3 separate regions of the Homo sapiens genome follow, and regions 1 and 2 are each linked to region 3. Evidence: fine-mapped expression QTL. A gene starts in region 3. Each other region holds a variant in brackets. All regions are shown on one strand. Distances are from middle to middle. Region 1 overlaps DCDC2 (doublecortin domain containing 2). Region 2 overlaps DCDC2 (doublecortin domain containing 2). Region 3 holds the start of DCDC2 (doublecortin domain containing 2).

The links. PIP is the estimated chance that this variant, and not a neighbour inherited with it, causes the effect. A credible set is the group of variants that fine-mapping cannot tell apart.
Region 1: its variant is the best candidate, but not a certain one, in a credible set for the expression of DCDC2 in prefrontal cortex (BrainSeq, PIP 0.53).
Region 2: its variant is the best candidate, but not a certain one, in a credible set for the expression of DCDC2 in prefrontal cortex (GTEx, PIP 0.59).

The regions. Positions count from the first base shown.
Region 1 is chr6:24,247,651-24,253,864 of GRCh38, reverse strand. The region is part of intron 7 of DCDC2 (doublecortin domain containing 2); the gene reads left to right. Among named protein-coding and RNA genes, the nearest start is that of KAAG1, 110 kb to the left of the region's middle. The variant A/G (reference allele first, on the strand shown) is at 3,582.
Region 2 is chr6:24,257,030-24,263,243 of GRCh38, reverse strand. All of the region lies in intron 7 of DCDC2 (doublecortin domain containing 2), which reads left to right. Among named protein-coding and RNA genes, the nearest start is that of KAAG1, 97 kb to the left of the region's middle. The variant A/G (reference allele first, on the strand shown) is at 2,412.
Region 3 is chr6:24,355,182-24,361,395 of GRCh38, reverse strand. DCDC2 (doublecortin domain containing 2) reads left to right here and starts at 3,337. Exons shown (of 10, transcript NM_016356.5): 1 at 3,337-3,938. The coding sequence starts at 3,646. It overlaps KAAG1 (kidney associated DCDC2 antisense RNA 1), which reads right to left and starts at 4,493. Exons shown (of 1, transcript NR_174942.1): 1 at 3,111-4,493. RefSeq lists enhancers at 1,101-1,190, 1,024-1,612 and a silencer at 1,331-1,480.

The DNA.
Region 1 (6,214 bases), 110 kb after region 3:
TTTAGTGTAGCCTAAGTATACAGCATTTATAAAGTCTACAGTAATGTCCTAGGACTTCACCTTCACTCACCACTGACTCACTGACTCACCCAGAGCAACTTCTAGTCCTGCAAGCTCCATTCATGGTAAATGCTCTATATAGATAACCATTTTAAATCTTTTATACCATTTTTTTTTACTGTACTTTTTCTATGTTTAGAAGCACAAGTAGTTACCATTGTGTTATAGTTGCCTACAGTACTCAGTATAGTAGCATGCTGTATAGGTTTGTAGTGTAGGAGCAATAGGCTATAGCACACACCCTAGGTGTGTAATAGGCTATTCCTTCTAAGTTTGTGTAAGTGCACTCAGTGATATTGACACAACAATGAAGTTGCCTAACAATGCATTTCTCAGATCAGATCCCTGTTAAGTGATCCATGACTGTATTTACATTTTTTCCAGCATCAGTTTTGATACATTATGTTGGTAAAGTTCATTTCACTTAAATTTTAAAATTTATTTGTGTAAAGGTATTCCTTATATCTTCTTTTAAAAGAAAATGCCTGTAGGATCTATAATAATGTACTATTTTTATTCTCACATTAGTATTTTATGCTTTCTTTTTTTATAATTAGTTTAGCTTTTGACTTAGATTTTTCTCTATTGTACATTCGTTTTATTTTTCATTTAATCTCTACCCTTATATTTATTTCCTTTCTTCAGCTTTCTTTGAGTTTAACTTACTCTTTTTCTATCTTCTGGAAATGGATAGAGCATCAATTTTTAGCCCTTGTTTTTTTCCTAATATTATATTTAAGCCCACGAATTTCCCTCTTATCACAGCTTTAGCTGCATCCAACATGTTTTGATTTGTCTTATTTTCATTATTTATGTAAAATGTTTTGAAATTTCCCATGTCATTTTTTTCTTTGACCCCGGGTTATTTAGAATGGCCTTACTTAATTTCAAAACAGTTTGACATTTTCTGGTGTTCCTTTTGTTGTTGATTTCTAGCTTAATTCCACTGTGGTGAGTGAACATAAATAATTTTAGTCTCTTTGTATTGTTGAGACTTGCATTATGGCTCAGCATAGGGTGAAATTTGGTAACAATTCCAGAGGTACTTGAAGAATGTTTTTGTGTTATCACTGCTGAGTGCTGTGTCAGTGTATTTGTCAATTAGGTCAGATTTCTTTGATTTTGTACTTTGGCTTTGAGATGGCTCTAGGCTCATCCTCCCCTCACCATTCTCTTTCTACTTTCTTGCTCATTAAATCTCTTTGCCCTCTTGCTTGCTTTTACCAGAGCTTCCTCTTTTGATCTAGCATCTTTTTGATCCATACATGTTTTCACATGATTTCATTTGGCTGTCTTCCCCTTAAAATTCTGGTTTCAATCATCGCCCTTTTTCCCTTTTGTTCTGTGGCTTTGCTCAGCAGGTCAGCATGGTCTTTGTGTCCTTTAGACCTTATTTGTTAAAGGAGCCAATCAGCTCCATCAGCAGGCATTCATTAGCACATGTTGTGGGACTTTAGAAATTCCTGACATTGTTCACTCAAGGGGCTTGTGATCTGGCTGGAAATTATAGTATAGTTAAATATACAGATTTAACAGTAGTACAAGGAAGTATATAATATGAACTATATGTGTGTTGTAGGGTAGAAGAAGGGACAGTCACTATGGGCTGGAATGGCTTTGTAGGGAACTTGGTATTTGGTCTGAAATCAAAAGATGGGAAATAGGGAATTTGCCAGAATAAAAATCCAGAGGCAGGAAAGCTTAACTACTTTGTGTTTGTATTTCATAAATTACTTTGGCTGGAGAGGACGATGTTAGTGTGCAAAGCTGTAGTGGCCTGGTCCATAGAGGTAGGCTGGGACTAGGTCATAAGGAGCCTTAAATGCCAAGCTATTACATTTAGACAGCATTCTGCAGCTACAGAGGCAAGGCATTGGAGATGATGAATATGTGCACAGGGATTTGATGTGGTGAATGTAACATTTTTGGGAAAATTATCTGATGGTTGTATACAGAATATAATTGGAAAGAGTCCAGTAAAATCCTGGAAAAATTATGTGATTTGAGATTATAATGTGCATAGAAAGATAACAGATGCATACAGAATCAGGAGAAGGGAGTTGATTTACTTATAATGCTTAAGAAATCCATCCTAGGTTTTTAAGAGACCAACAGTGCTGTGGATAGAAATAGAGACACAGGGAGGCAGAGCAGAATTCAGACACAGGTGTCAGAATGTGCTCAAGACCAGAGAGCTGAAGCCATGGTGCAGAGGTGAGATTTAGCTTAGGCAGACTTTGCAACTGAAAAGAGCACAGGTGTCAGGAGGTGTCAAGATGGTGTATGGAAGGGCTCCCGCAGAGTTCTCTCTGAGATAGCAGAATTTCAGGAGGTTTGTGAGGAATTAGGGCTAGCCATACCAGCTGTGGAAGCCAAGGTAACCTAACATTGCTGTCCAAACTTATAATCTCTAAAGTAACAGACCAAAATCGATTAACAATAATAATGGCACTAATAAGGAAAAGCACAGCAAGCTCTCAAACCGCAAGTGAAATTCATTTGCGCCATTTGGGGTTCACTTTTAAAGGAGTAAGCTATTCTTCATGTATCCTCCTGTTTTGAAGGTTTCCCTGAAACTGTCCAGTTTTGCCTCAACCAAGGCGATTTGCTAGGAAACAGGAGAGAATTCTAAACTCCAATTAGCCAGTGCTATTGGAGATTAATAACACTTTAGACCTGCTGGAAGCGACTTCACATCTAAGCTTCTTCCTACTGTGTCATAGCAACAATTTACAAATTTTAATAATAGATGTCCTGTTTGAGAAATTGCCTTTCCTTATGCTATGGGAGGTTTTATGATTAGACTATACCTCTTTCCTTGCAGTTGTTTTCAAGGCGTTTATGTTACCATTTTTGCTTATCAGTAATGGTTCAAAAATTTTCTAACACAGAGCAATTAATATCTGTCAGTAGAAATAAATTACATTTTTCATCGCTTGTGACACACTCTCAAATGCTGTTTGAAAGTGCCATAATTTTGCATCATCATGCTATGTAATTTTGGTGCCTGGTGTAGGAGTGCTTTAGGGGTATGATTTATATTTTCTGTTTTTTTTTTCTTGAATTAATAGGGTAGGTGTAAGGATTAGGATATAAGTTGGAAAATGACACTTTGCAGAATAATTTGTATTATTTCTGTTCTTCTAAAGCAGTCTGTCTTTTAGAATTGTTCACATATTTTATAAATATATTTGTGCATGCAGATTGTGTATATTATAATGTTACCATCAGTAACTTTTGCCTTATAGCACTAGAAGGGACAACATGCTTTTAGAAATTGAATGCTTAGAATATATGTATGTTCAGAACATATTTTTCATTGCCATAAGGAAGAAGTGTATAACATTTGCAACATTTTTACCTCTGTAGGATCCTTGTCGTTTAAGCACAGCAGGCCCACCCTAGTGCTCTGTTTTAGCCAGCCGTGATTACTGGCCACAGATGAGAGCCTATGACAGGCGGAGCACCCAGGCCACCTTCTGCTTATTTTTGGCCCCATTCTCTTCTCCTTTGGCCCTGCA[A/G]CCTGGTGTTGACATGTGATTTTAGCCTGGTGCTTTTAGGTTACCGATTTGTACTCACCTCTGGTTTGATAGATTCCAACTTGCCTGGAGGCTCTTGCCAATTGTCTTCTACCACTCACTGCCTACCTCTGACTCAGTCCAGTGAGAGATGATGAGAAGGATCAGAGGATGGGGGAGGGAGGCTGCCGGGACCCGGGTAAAAAATCAAAAAGGACTTGAGCCTACTAATTAAACCTCTCAAATTGCAATTGTGCTGAAAGCTCATACTGCTCTCGTCAGTGCCTAATTGATGAGTCCATTACTATGTTCAGTCATTGCTACCTGGCAGCCATTCTTAAAGTGAGCAATATATTTCATTCTATTAGACTACAATCAGTGATTCCCTTCTGAAACAGTGAAGAAAAGCTTTAACTTTAAATTTACAACTCAAATAATATTGCTTCTTCAATATGGCTATTATAAAGAGGAATGGAGTCAGGGAGGGACCACACTCACTCGACAAGGCTTTGTAGAGGATCTACTATCCCCAAACACAGTGCTGAGGGTATGATATTCCTGAGAAATGCTGTTAGGAGATGTGGTTTTCAAAATAATTCACAATGATTACAACTAAATCTGTCTTTACTCCCCATCTCTTAATGTTTTTATTTTTTAATTTAACACTGTCGGTTGGATTAGGCTTAGATAAAATACACATAAGAGTATAAGGAGATAGAAACCTAAATATAGGCGTTTTGTGCAACCAATGCATCGCTGCCTTATCTTGAAACTTCTGAAATTATCAAAAGCTACATTACTGTATATCATAGCAGCACAGCTGTGAGCAAAGCTGGGGCTTTGCTATTTTAAAATGTTAGAAGAGAAAGTGTATTGAATTTTTCAATTGAATTTTAAAAAGGTATCAGTGAATAGAGACTTGTCTTCTTACATGGGACTCAAACTATCAGATTCCCAAATAGAATTTTAGCAATTAATACTAGTTAAATGGGTTTCAGCAAGTCAAACCCATCTCCACAGAGCTATGATTGTAGTATATTTTTAATTATGGAAGTATTAAAAACAATCAGCTCACATTAACTTTTAAAATAGAATTATAAAGCAGAGCCTTTCACTCTAATTCCTTTGTTTAGGGAGTCATCAGGTATTAAGTGAGTCACTTTAGAATGAGCGGCTTATTTTTAAGAGTTTTAATATATTAAATAAGAATAACAGAAATCAAAGTAGAAGGAACCTTGGAAATTATGGTCACCTGACACTTGGTATTTCATTTAGAAAACAAATACCTAAAATTATTAAATGCAAAAAAGAAACTAAAGCTGCTCACTGGATGGATGGATGGGGCATTGGTAATTGGTAGTTATGGTTTTAAAGGAATAAGGGCATTAGGTTAATTGGCATAATGTGAAAACAGATGCTTTATATTTTCAAACATCTTATTAGTGATTCCCTATTGAGCTCCATTTTTAATTTAATATTTATGCAGGAGTTAATATTTTGAAAATGTTTATAGTCATTTTTATTTGTTGTATGTTTTATATGAGGTAGGTCAGTGCATTTTTTCATCTGGGTAAGTCATCAATTAACAGGTGGAGTACGTGGCATGTAGTAAACAGATGTTTCTGCCCTCGAGGGAATTACAAATTAAATTCGCCTCTTAGTATCTTACTATTCCAAAGGTCTTACCTTTGCTTAACCACGTATATCCTGCCAGCAAAACTGGTCTTCAGGAAATTGTGCCACAAAATGATACTAATGATACTAATACTAATACTACCAATACTAATACTACCACTGATTAAGGACATCCTGTGTGCCAGGCAGTATATTGAGTTCTTTGTGCATGTTGTATAATTTAATTTTCTTAACAGTGCCATGAAGCAGCTACTATCTCAGTTTTACAGACAAGGAATCGGGGCTTGAAGAGGTTCAGACCATGTAACTTGTATGTGAAGGTCTAGATCTGGTAAGTGAAGAAGTTAGTGTTTGAAACAACTGCTCCCCCGCACTGCACCGTATGGTGTCCTGTGGTAATAATGGTGGCTACATTTGTTGGTGGCTGTCTACTAAGAACTTCACAGCATATTTTCATTTAATGCCCACAACAATTTTAGGTATTTTATTCCAATCTACAGATGCAGAAACTGAGCTGAAGAGCAGTTAAAGAACGTTAGAACATTCTTTTTTTATTTTTGTTTTTTAATATTTTTGAGATGGAGTTTTGTTCTTGTTGCCCAGGCTGGAGTGCAATGGTGCAATCTTGGCTCACTGCAACTTCTGCCTCCCGTGTTCAAGTGATTCTCCTGCCTCAGCCTCCTGAGAAGCTGGGATTACAGGCATCCGCCACCATACCCAGCTAATTTTTTGTATTTTTAGTAGAGACAGGGTTTCACCATGTTGGCCAGGCTGATCTTGAACTCCTGACCTCAGGTGATCCACCCGCTTCAGCCTCCCAAAGTGCTGGAATTAAAGGCGTGAGCCACCACACATGGCCAAGAACATTTTTAAGAGTACACAGCTATGAAGAAACATAGTTTCAAAATATAGTGCTCTGCCTCCATACTCTGTTGCTATACCCATATTCCAAACTGCTCCCCTTTCAACGTTTCTTCATGTGCGTGATAAAGATATATAAC
Region 2 (6,214 bases), 98 kb after region 3:
ATTCCAAGTGTGTTGTGTGTTGTAATCTAAGTCTTTGGTTACTGCAGCTGCATCTGCATTAGGGGGCACCTCAAGCCGAGTAATGCTGTGACTCTTGGCAGATGCGTGGAAGCACTGTCTTGGTGATCTGGGGTAAGATCCAAGAGAATTCCCTGCATTACCAGGCAGAGACTCTTTTCCCCTTCTCTTGCCTTCCTGCAAACAAATGGAGTCTCTCTCCATACTGAGCTCCCTGGATCCTGGGGCAGGGGTGACACAAGAGCCCATATGGCCACCACCACTGGGACTGCACTGGATCAGACCTAAAGCCAGGGCAACACTGGGTCTTGCCTAAGGCCCACAGTGACCACTGCCTGGCTATTGCTGATGTTCACCCAAGGCCCAGGGGCTGTTCAGTCAGCAGTTGGTGAACCCAGCCAGACCCATGTCCTTCCCTTCAAGGCAATAAGCTTTTCTCCCTGCTGGCCCAAGGTGGGTTCCCTTCTGGCCCTGGGTGTGTCTGGAAATGTCATCTGGGAGCTAGGGCCTGGATGAGTGCATCAGGGCTCTGCCTGGCACCCTATCCTACTGTGGCTGAGCTGGTGTACAAGTTGCAAGACAGTCTTCTTTACTCCTCCTCCTCCTCTCCTGTAGCAGAAAGAAGGAATCTCTCCCAAAGCTGCGAGCTGTACTGCTTGGGGTTGGGGGAGGGGTGGCACAAGCACTCCCTTAGCCACCCTGGCTGGTGTCTCACTAATTTGTGTGCACCCCAAGTCCACTGGCTCCAAGGGCAGCGCAGCACCAGGGCTTTCCCAGGAGTTGCACTCTTTGTGGCCTAGACTGTCTTTCAAGTTTATTTAAGTTTATCAAGTTTATTTAAGTGCTCTGGCACTTTAGCCCTCAGTGATGGGGCTAGTTTGAACTCAGGTTCTGACTGCTAGGATGGGACAGTTTCCCTCTGGCTGGGGCTGGTCTAAATGTTCCCTCCATGGGCACTGGCTGAATTCTGCCCCATGTTGCTTTCTGCTGTGACAAGGCAGCAGTGAGTTACAATGCAAAGTCTCACAATTACTGTGCTCTCCCTCCCCTAAGCACACAGATTCTCTCTCGGTGTCACGAGGCTGCTGCTGGGGGACGGGGGTGGGGTGGTGTAGGCAATTCAAGACTGTCTTTCCTACCATCTTCAGTGCCTTTCTCCTTGATACGCTGTTAAAACCAGGCACTGTGATTGCTTACCTGATATTTGTTTTTTATGAAGGGGCTTTCTCGTGTGGATAGCTGTTCAATTTGGCATTCCTGTTGGGGGGTGGACAGTGATTGCTGGAGGGTTTTATTTGGTCGTCTTGCTCCACCTCATTTCCTGACATAGAATTTTTGGTTGGAGATACTTTTCAACTGGAATTTTGAATGGGCTACTTCATTGATTGTTTATGTTCATTGCAGCTGTTAAGATATCTGATGCCTGTTTATCTTAATTTGGGTTTCACCAAAAGCTATGCTTAGTAGATGACGAGCTGAGAAAAGGACTTGGGTGCAAGTAATTCATTTGGGAATTGACCTCGGAAATTAGGGGCAGGTAAGACATAAGGATGAGAAAAGTCAATAAGGAAGGATATTATTGAAAAAGTTACTCCTGTGGGCAACTGCACTCAGTCCTGCTGGGACCCTCTCAGAGCCCATGAAACACACCTTAGAATTGTCCCATGCAGGATCAAGGAAACTGGGATGTCTGTCTCCCAATTACTGCCCTTTGTTGCTTGAGGGTTTTACTTGGAGAATTACCTCCCTGGCACTCCAGCCCATCCCATACTCAGGCTGAACATGCTTCTCTGGCCAGAGAAGAGATTCAGGCAGAGAAACTCAGGAACTTGAGGTAGAAAGACCTCAAACCATATGAGAACTGTCCACCAAAGCTGCCATAGAACTTTGGCTTGGGCTAAGAAGTTACAAACCTTATGTGCATAACATTAGTAGCAACAAAAAAAAGCACTGACATCTCAGATCAGAAACAAAGGTAGAGACATTCTGCAGAGTAGTTGAACACCAAAAAAAAAAAAAAAGCAAGAAAATGGATTTAAAATGTACTTAATGAAGGATATGGAGAAGATGTTAGCTGAGAATTCTAAAATTGCTCTTTTTGTATGAGGTGAAAATTTTGCAATCTTAAAATGAATTACTATTCTTCTGTAACTGCAGAATTGTTTAAAAGATTCAATTAAAAGCATAGACAGTTCCCATGTCAGACTAGACAAAGAATGTATTAGGAGCAAAAGGGAACAATGACTGTTTCTCTTAAATAAAAGAATTCTGTCATTTACCCCACATTGGTACCAGAGTTCTCAATAATTCAATCCAATATTGGAATAAGCAGTGTGGGCTGTCATTGTTCTGGGAGTCAAGAAGAGTAGCCTCCCAGGACAAAAACTTGAACC[A/G]TTGAGCACCATCATTGACAAATGGTCTCCATATTTTCTCTGGCACTTTTTATCCCAGCATGGTTGAGATTTATTATATTTTCAATTTGGTAAGGTTTGCTAGTTAAAACAGAGTTCCAGACCTAATTAGTACAGCACTCTATAACTTTTAGATGGATGAGTTCACATCTTAGAAATTTTTATTTTCTGAGCAAGCCTCAGACAGAAGGGACAGAGAAATAAAGCTTCTTTAGTAGCTAGATGGATATAAGGCAGCTGTTCAACTGTGAGGCAAGCTGCCTGTTTAATTTTTAGAAATTAGTTGGGAGAATAATCAAATTCTCTTTAGACTTTATTCCTGCATTCACCCTGAGGTTATAATTTAGAAGCATGATGATGGTTATTTAGCATTTTTATAATAATGAAACATTATGACTGAGAAAACACTTTTGTAAAGTAGAAAGTGCCAAAAGAGGCAGTATCTATGTAAGGAGATACGAATTAGTCTGGACTGGTCTCCAAGTCAGAGATGAGGAACTTTAGTACCAGAAATGAGAGAGCCTAGAGATGAGAGGTGGGAACCGGCAACCCATTAATAATTCATGCTTTCCTAGTTAGCTGTCCCTTATAGCTTTGTGTCCTCCCCCTCCCAAGACTCAGTTGCCACTCTGGTCTGAAGCCAAAAGCTGAAGTTTCTTGGAAGATGATGAAAAAGTTTAAGGAAGATCAGTAGGATTAGAAAGGAGTAGAAGGAGAGAGGGAAGAAAAAAGTTAGTTGGGCAGACAGAATCATTTCTTATTCTAATAAAAATTTAAAAAACTAAAAATAACCTTAAGCATCAATTCTCTTTAACACCAGTTAGCCTCTAGGTTACTCTCTTTACTCCTAAGCTCCACTGAATTTTATTGTCAACATGGTGAGTACTGAGAGGAGAGGCATAAAAATGGGAAAACACTGTGGTTTGTTTTCTTCTCATGAAACTTACTGAGTTGGAGACTCAGAAGTGTTTCTAAGTCAAGGTAGGATATTACAAGTAGCAGAATAGAGTAACCAAGCAAGGCTTTGAGAGCACAGGGGAGAGAGGTTAAATCTGACTGCTGAGACTGGGAATTGATATTTATTTGAGAGAGAAAGTTCTAGGCATAGAATTTTGAAAAAAAGAAGAAAATAAAACCAGGACCAGTTTCAGCATTTAAATCTCTAATGCATTTTAAACCAAGAGTAGTTAAATGTTAATTAATCCTTCAAATTGGAAAAACAATTTAATTTAATATGAACAGGGAAGGGGAGAGATTGTTCAGAAATTTGCTTCTTGGACAATAGAGAATTGCTGTTTTTGTTTTCTTTTTGATGTTTCCGTGCTAGTTTAACCTTATAATGTTATTTTCATATACTTTTTCACATTAGCTTAAAAGTGGCCATGCACTCTTCTAAAAATCATAATGGTGACTGCGAATATCACTATTTACTCTAAAGACCATCACTTAGTAAACAACAAAACTTTCATTTTTCGTAATTATGTATCCCTCACTAAAAGGCCCTTGACACATTCTCAACGGCCTCTTTATAGATCTGAGCCTGGAAACAAATTTCTTCTTACATTAAGGCCCATATTTCTGACTACTTGAAATTTTTACCTTGATTTGTCACGTACATCCTACATGCACAAATTAAAAAATTCTCCGAGCTTTGGATTCCCCCTACATGCTGTTTTTTTTTCACATGTCTTGTATCTTTGGATATCACCCAGCTAGAAATCTGAGTGTGACCCACGCTAGTGGAAAGGGGGAAGAGGAGAGGAGTTCATAATATGAACAAAAGTTCTCTGAAAAGGAATTTCGAGGAAAGACTATTCCTGTGAACAGTTTGCAAACCAAGGAGATTGCAGCCTTTAGTGCACAATGAAGATGTGTTCTAGAGAACAAAGGGAGGGTTCAGGTTTTATAGCACAAGTTCCTGCCCAGGTTCATTTATGCAAATGAAGGATTCAAACTTGCTTAGCTCCTATTGATTGGTACAGCTGAGCCCTGATTGGTTGAGGCAGGTGAGCTCTGATTGGTTGGTTCAAGTGACTCTGAGAGTCCCAAAGTTGAACAGAAATGTGGATTTTCTGAGGGCTCAGAGTTATGTGTGTGACCTCTAGTCAGCAAAGGGCTACTTGGCTCTATTTTAAATTTAGACCCAGTGAGTGACTCAGGATTCAACTTGAAGGATTGGCTCTCTGAGGTTCACATTTGTTGACAGTAGTTTCCATATTGTGGTGCTACGGAGAGGTGAAGCCAGCTGGACTTCTGGGTCGGGTGGGGACTTGGAGAACTTTTCTGTCTTACAAGAGGATTGCAAAATGCACCAATCAGCAGCACTCTGTAGCTAGGATTGTAAAATGCACCAATCAGTGCTCTGTGGCTAGCCAGAGGTTTGTAAAATGCGCCAATTAGCACTCTGTAAAAGTGCACCAATCAGCTCTCTGTGGCTAGCTAGATGTTTGTAAAGTGGACCAATCAGTGCTCTGTAAAATGGATCAATCAGCAGGATGTGGGCGGGGACAAATAAGGGAATAAAAGCTGGCCACCCCCCGCCCCCAGCCAGCAGCAGCAACCCACTTGGGTCCACTTGCACGCTGTGGAAGGGTTTTTCTTTTGCTCTTCACAATAAATCTTGCTGCTGCTCCCTCTTTGGGTCCGCACCACCTTTAGGAGCTGTAATACTCACTGTGAAGGTCAGTGGCGTCATTTTTGAAGTCAGCGAGACCACGAACCCACCCGAAGGAACCCACTCTGAACACACTACTTCAGGAGGTTAGCAGTCCATGCCTGATTCCTTTCTAATCCCCTCCGTGTCTCCTCTTACACCACTTTAATCCAGTTAACTTTAGAGTCATCCTAGATTTTTCCATGCCTCATTCTTCACACTCAATCAGAGCTAATTTTCATTGATTCTACTTTCTCAGAGTCTCTTGAATCTGGTCCTTCCTGACCATCCTTGATTTAAGCTCCTTATTTTTAATGCAGACTACTGCAGCCTTTTTTCCAGATGGTCTCCAAGCTCCCTCCCTATCTGTACATCACAGCTCTGCCAGAGTGCTCTAAAAACACAAAACTTTTCTGATGAAATTTCTTTAGAAGCTTGTCACTTTCATGGCCTTTTTTTTTTTTCCCCAACTTCAGGCGTCTTCCACAAGCCTCCCTACATATAAAACATTTTAGAGTTTCTCGATCGCGTGTCTTTTGTATGTCTCTTTGCAGCTGTCTAGAATACCCATAACTTTATTCTCTTTAAGACTAACAGTGGCATCATCTCTTCTATAAGATCTGTTCTGAGACTCCCAGAGTTGAGCTTTTTCTTTGCTCTGCCTCCTAGTGGGACACAACTTTACAGCAGGTGTATTACAACAGCAGGTGTTGTAATTGAACAGGTTGTTTTCATGCCCTTTCTCTCCACTGGTGCGTGAACTCTTTGAGAGCCAGGACTCCTGCTTATTATTGTCTTTTTCATCTTTGTGAGCCCATCATCTGGCTTGGTTTATAACACAAAGCTCTCTGAAGAGCTTGATGAGAGAATGACTGAATTTTTTCACACATTGTGTACTTTTTGCCATGTTTTTATTTGAAGGTTAGGCATTCCAGTTATTTATGATGATATTTCTTAAGGTTAACTTGATTAAATCAGATTTGCTAATCAAGTATTTTCCAGTGGCACAGAGATTAACAAGGCCTCTGCCACAATGTTGAGGCAAAGTAGATATATATCTGTGTAAGCAGAGGCATTTTATTTAAATGCAAGGAGAAGTAATAGGTTAGAGAAAAGACCATTTATTTGACTT
Region 3 (6,214 bases):
TTGTTATATAGGTAACTCGTGTCACGGAGGTTTGTTGTACAGATTATTTCATCACCCAGGTACTAAGCCTGATACTCAACAGTTATTTTTTCTGCTCCTCTCCCTCCTCCCACGCTCCACCCTCAAGTAGGCCCCAGTATCTGTTGTTCCCTTCTTTGTGTCCGTGAGTTCTCCTCATTTAACTCCTACTTATATGTGAGAACATGCGGGTATTTGGTTTTTTGTTCCTGCGTTTGAAAACTGTTAACTTTCAAAGCATTAATGTATTACATGGCTTTAATAAAAATATTTCTTCAGAACAGAAATCTCGAAGGAAAAAAAAAGTTTCTCTCCAGATTGCAATGTCCCACACATTCATCTTTCACAGTGATATGACTGGTTATGGAGCTTGTGGAATAAGACAGAACTGGGTTTGAACTCTCTCTCTCTCTTTCGTTTTCTAATCCTTAGAATGGGTTTGAATTCCTGTGTGTGTGACCTGAGGTAAATGTCTTTGATTTCTCTACCCTTCAGTTTCCTCATCTGAGGAAAGAATAATATTTACCTCTGAAGGTTATTGTGAATATTAGATAATCTACATAAAGTGCCTTACATAATGCCTGGTCCATGGTTATAGTGTTCAATTAATGGCAGTTCTTTTTATTCGTACATGATGAGTTAGGAACACCCAGTAATTTGGACATGACACATGGTAGAAAAGTCTTAGGAGGAATGAAGGAAACACTGGCAGAGATGAGCTGCAAAATTTCAACTCTTTAAACATTTTCCTGGTGCCACAATATGTATGTCCCAGACTGGACTGGACAAAGCGACTCTTTACTGGGGCTGTTACTATTCTCACAACTCCTCTCCCTGTTATTCCTCAGACAGAGCTAACAATCTACACAAATAGCACAGATGTGGGCTCTTGGACAGCCAGTCAGACATTTAGCCTTCTTGCGGCAGTGAAAAAATCCTTTCCCTGGCGTAAAGCTTGGCACAGGGTAGGCACTCAAAATTTTGTAGGTTTTCCTTTTCACCGCCGTGGCCCCAACTAGCACAGGGCCTTGCACACAGCAGGCGTCCATTTACTGAATGAGCGCATGATGAATGAGCGCATGATCATGTCACCTGTTTCTCCCTCTTCCTCCAAACCCCTGTTCTTCCGCCTCTGCCCCACGCAGCCAGCATATCCCAAGGAGCCAGGCGCAAGCCAGGCCTGGTTCACTGACTCGCTCCCCGCGCGAGGCTGCGGTTGCTATGGAAACAGCGGGAAATAACAACTCCGTTCCCCTTGGGTGAGAGAGGCCCGCAGAGGTAACAGCAGCTGGAGGAACAGCGTGAGCGGCGCGCAGCCGCCGCAGAGTTCACCACTGTGCCACCCGAGCCGCACCGCCCCGCCCCCGCGCGGCCGGCGCCCGAGCTCCCCTCCCCTCTCCAGCACGCGAGTGTCGGTAGGTACTACGGCGGAGGGCACCTCCTGGGCCCGCCTCCCCAACCAGGGCCCCGCTTGCGCGCTGCCTGCTGTCTTCACGTGATGCGCACCCGAGCTTCGCCGCCAGGCGGCGCTGATCATCGGGGAGGGGGTTAGGGGTCCTAGACACGCGAGTCTTCGCTCTGTTTCTCATTCATTCATTCATTCACTTAAATGTTATTTTTCCCTTCCTTCCTTCCCTCCCTCCTTCCGGGATGGGGTCTTGCTGTGCTGCTCAGGTTGGTCTCAAACTCCCGGGCTCAAGTGAGCCTCCTGCCTCAGTTTCCCAAAGTGCTGGGGTTACAGGCATGAGTCACGGTACCCGGATTCTCTCTTTCTCTCTCTGAATATATATAATATATATAAAATATATATATAAAAATATATAATATATATAAAATATATAAAAAATATATATAAAATATATATAATATATAAAATATATATAATATATTATATATAAAATATATATTATATAGTATATATAAATATATATACTATATAGTATATATAAATATATATAATATATAATATATAAAATATATATAATATATAATATATAAAATATATATAATATATAATATACATAAAATATATATAATATATAATATATATAAAAATATAAAATATATAATATATATAAAAAATATAAAATATATAATATATATAAAATATAAAATATATATTATATATAATATATAAAATATATAAAATATATAAAATATATAATATATAAAATATATATAATATATAAAATATATAAAATATATATAAAATATATAAAATATATAAAATATATAATATATATAAAATATATAATATATATAATATATAATATATAAAATATATAATATATAAAAATATATGATATATAATATATATGATATATAAAATATATAATATATATAAAATATAAAATATAAAATATATAATATATAAAATATATAATATATAATATATAATGTATAAAATATATAATATATAATATATAATATATAATATATAAAATATATAATATATAATATATATAATATATAATATATTATATATATAAATATATATAATACATATATATTATATATATTATATATAATATATAAATATATATATAAATATAATATATATATTTATATATAATATATAAAATATATATTTTATATATTATATATAAAAATATATAATATATAAATAAATAAATAAAATATATATAAAATAAAATATATAAAATATATATATAAAAAAAATATATATTTTATTTTCTAAGACAGGGTCTTGCTGTGTCGCCCAGGCTGGAGTGCAGTGGCAAAATCATAGGTTACTGCAGCCTCGACCTCCTGGGCTCAAACAATCCTCCCGCCTCAGCCTCCGAGATAGCTGGGTCCACAGGCGAATACCCTGCCCACCTACTTTTTTTTTTTTTTTTTTTTTTTAATTGTAGAGACCGGGTCAGGCTGGTCTCAAACTCCTTGCCTCAGGGGATCACAGGCGCGTTATAGAGACGGGGGCTTTCCCTGTGTTTCCCAGGCTGGTCTAGAACTCCTGGTCTTAGGCAGCCCTCCCGCCTGGGCCCCTCAAAGTACTGGAATTTGCAGGCGTAAGCCACCGCATCTGGCTTTGCACATTTATCTTCCAGCAAAGAAAAACCTGGGCAACTACATCCAGGAACTTAATTGCTTTAATTTGGGAGCAAGCAGGAGATTGAGGGGTAAAGGTGCAAGAAGAGAGAAAAGAAAAATTAGGCTGTTTGGAAAGGGTAGCACAGATATGATGTAAGAAATTGGGTTTCACCATATTTGTGTGTGTGTGTGTGTGTGCGTCCTCCTCTCTCCTGCCCTCACTAGGCGTGCCTGTTTGAAGGCCCCGCGCGTTTCCGGCTCCTGCTCAGAAGCTGTCCACCTTGATTCTGCCCGTAGCAGGTGAACCTGGTGTGGTGCGCGCACTGCGGGTCCTGATTGGCTGTGCACGCCACGGTGAAAAACTTGAGCGTCTACTCCGAGTCCTGCAAGCTCCTAGTGTCTCCTCTGGGTGGACGCCTAGGCGCACGGCCGTTACTTCTCTTTCACCTGTGGATTCGTCAGTTTCTCGTTCGTTTCAGGAGGCGATCCCGCGCCCTGGGTGCGGTGAGGCCGCTGGGACAGCGGAGGTGCCTCCCGACGCGAAGCAGCGAGCTGAGGCGGCGGCCAGCGGGGAAGATGAGCGGCAGCAGCGCCAGGTCCAGCCACCTGTCTCAGCCCGTCGTGAAGAGCGTGCTTGTGTACCGCAACGGGGACCCCTTCTACGCGGGGCGCCGCGTCGTCATCCATGAGAAGAAGGTGTCCAGCTTCGAAGTCTTCCTGAAGGAGGTGACCGGCGGCGTTCAGGCACCCTTTGGGGCCGTCAGGAACATCTACACCCCGCGGACTGGCCACCGAATCCGGAAGCTAGACCAGATCCAGAGCGGGGGCAATTACGTGGCTGGAGGCCAGGAAGCCTTCAAGAAACTCAAGTGAGTCGGTCTCCCCCACCGCCCACCCATTTAGGTGCCCTATAGTGTGGGGTTGATATGAAGAAATGCAGATCCCTACCCCCCCACACCTCAGTGGTTGAGGGGCTGTGACTTCTCGGTGTGATTGATGCCCCTCAAAACTCTCGTTGCAGTTGGGGGGTAGAGGTTGACACTGTGACTGGAGAAGGAATTTCACTTGGGTCAGCAGTAGGAGTAAACTTAAAATCTGTGTATAAACAACAGGAATCTTAAAGAAAATAAAAAGGTATCCTTGCAAAGGTTAGTGACCAAACTGATACTTTTGCGTTTTCTGTTCAGTTTTTTCTTTCCTTTTCCTTATTTTTTTTCCTTGGAAATCCATCCTTTTAATTTAAATAAACATTCTTAAAAATCACTTCCAAGTGTTGGACACTATATTGTCACCAGAGGAGAAAATTGCTCTGCATTTCCCGTACTGTTTAAATTATTTCAACCTTTCATTCCAAGTAGAATTGACAACACTCACTTTTGTGACCCTGCTCCCACCCCCTGCATGTTTATGCTGTTAGCATAATGCAGGAAGAGTTTACTGGCTGACTGTATTTGTCGACTGTCTGTCTCCAGCAACGTGATTAGACCTTCAAGGGCAGGGGTCCTTATTCCCAGCTCTTGAGCTCACTCATAGTGAGTGTTCAGTGAATTAAGAAACCGTCAGTTCAGGGAACAAAGATGAGCAAGGCATGATTCCTTGTCTTTAGGAGCTTTCAGTCTAACTGGACTACCTGCACACTAACAATTTTAATGCAAGCTACAAAGGGATATGTGCATAGAAAAATAAAGTTATGTGGGAATTGTGAGTTGAGAGTTGGTTGGGGTGGTCATTATAGGACAGGTAGAATTTTACATTCCATTTTTTTTTTACAGCTTTATTGAGATAGATTTCTCATGGCATGAAGTCCAACCATTTCATTGGCTTTCAGTGTATTCAGAGTTGTGCAACCATCACCACCAACTAATTGTAGTTCATTTCCACCCCTCCCGCCAAAACATTTGTACCTCCCAGTTTCCTCTGTCCCCTGTCATCTGGAAACCACTAATCTATTTTCTGAATCTATGGATTTGTCTATTCTGGACATATCATATAAATGGAATCATACGGTATATGGTCTTTATGTCTGGCTTATTTCACTTACTGTAACATTTTCAAGGTTCATCCATGTTGTATCATACATCAATACTTCATTCTTTTTATTGTTGAATAACATTCCATGATTTGGGTATATTACCTTTTATATCCATGCTTATCCATTTATCAGTTTGATGTATATTTGGGTTGTTTCACATTTTAACTATTATGAATAATGCATCTATGAATATTTGTGTACAAGTTTTCATTTCTCTTTGGTGTATACCTAAGAGTGAAATTGCTGGATCACATGGTAACTCTGTATTCCATAGTTTAATAGAACATTTTAATTGAAATTCATCTTGGGCCCCAGGATAGAAAAAAGCCTTGACCATAAATCTAAGCTTATGAATTCATAAGCATTATTGGATTCTTAATAATTAAAATTCAAATAAAGTCTTATAACTACATAGAAATATTTTTCAAAATATCACTAAAATTCTTGAATGTAATCCTTCTTCTCCTATATTTGTTTAAATTGAGTTCTAGGTATTCTATTATACTTTTTGTTACGTCAGACATTCTTTTCATGGAAAGTGAGGGATATATTTGGATTTATTTTTCCCTCCCCTGAAGCTTCTTAAGCATGCTTTGTTAAACTTCGTAAAAAAGGGCTAAATGAAATTGCATGCTTAAAGGAAACTTAAAACCAGGAGACTGAAGACTGAGTTGCTCATCAGCTCTGTGTCCTTGGGCAAGTCGCTTGACTCAGCTAATCAGTTTCTTAATACAGAAAAGGTGCATAATCATTTGTACCACACAGGGCTGTGATAAAAAGTAAATGCTATAGATGTGTGTTTTGTAAACACCAAAGTGTTACATAAATATAAGACACCTCTATGACCAGTTCCTTTTGTTACATACTTTATTTTTTATTAAATATTTCCGTCTAAAGCAATTTCGTGGAAATGAAAGTCTGGTTCAGAATCTCTGAACGGCTGAAAATTGTAGACTCACTTTTATAGTTCATGTTCTTTTGTTTATTTGATCCTACCAACTCACAAGATTAAAAAAAAAAGGTACAGTTCCACACCAAATAAAAAAGTGTACTCAAGTCTCTCTAAGAGATTTGCATGTTATTTTTGCTTTCAGTTCATACACAAAAAACTGA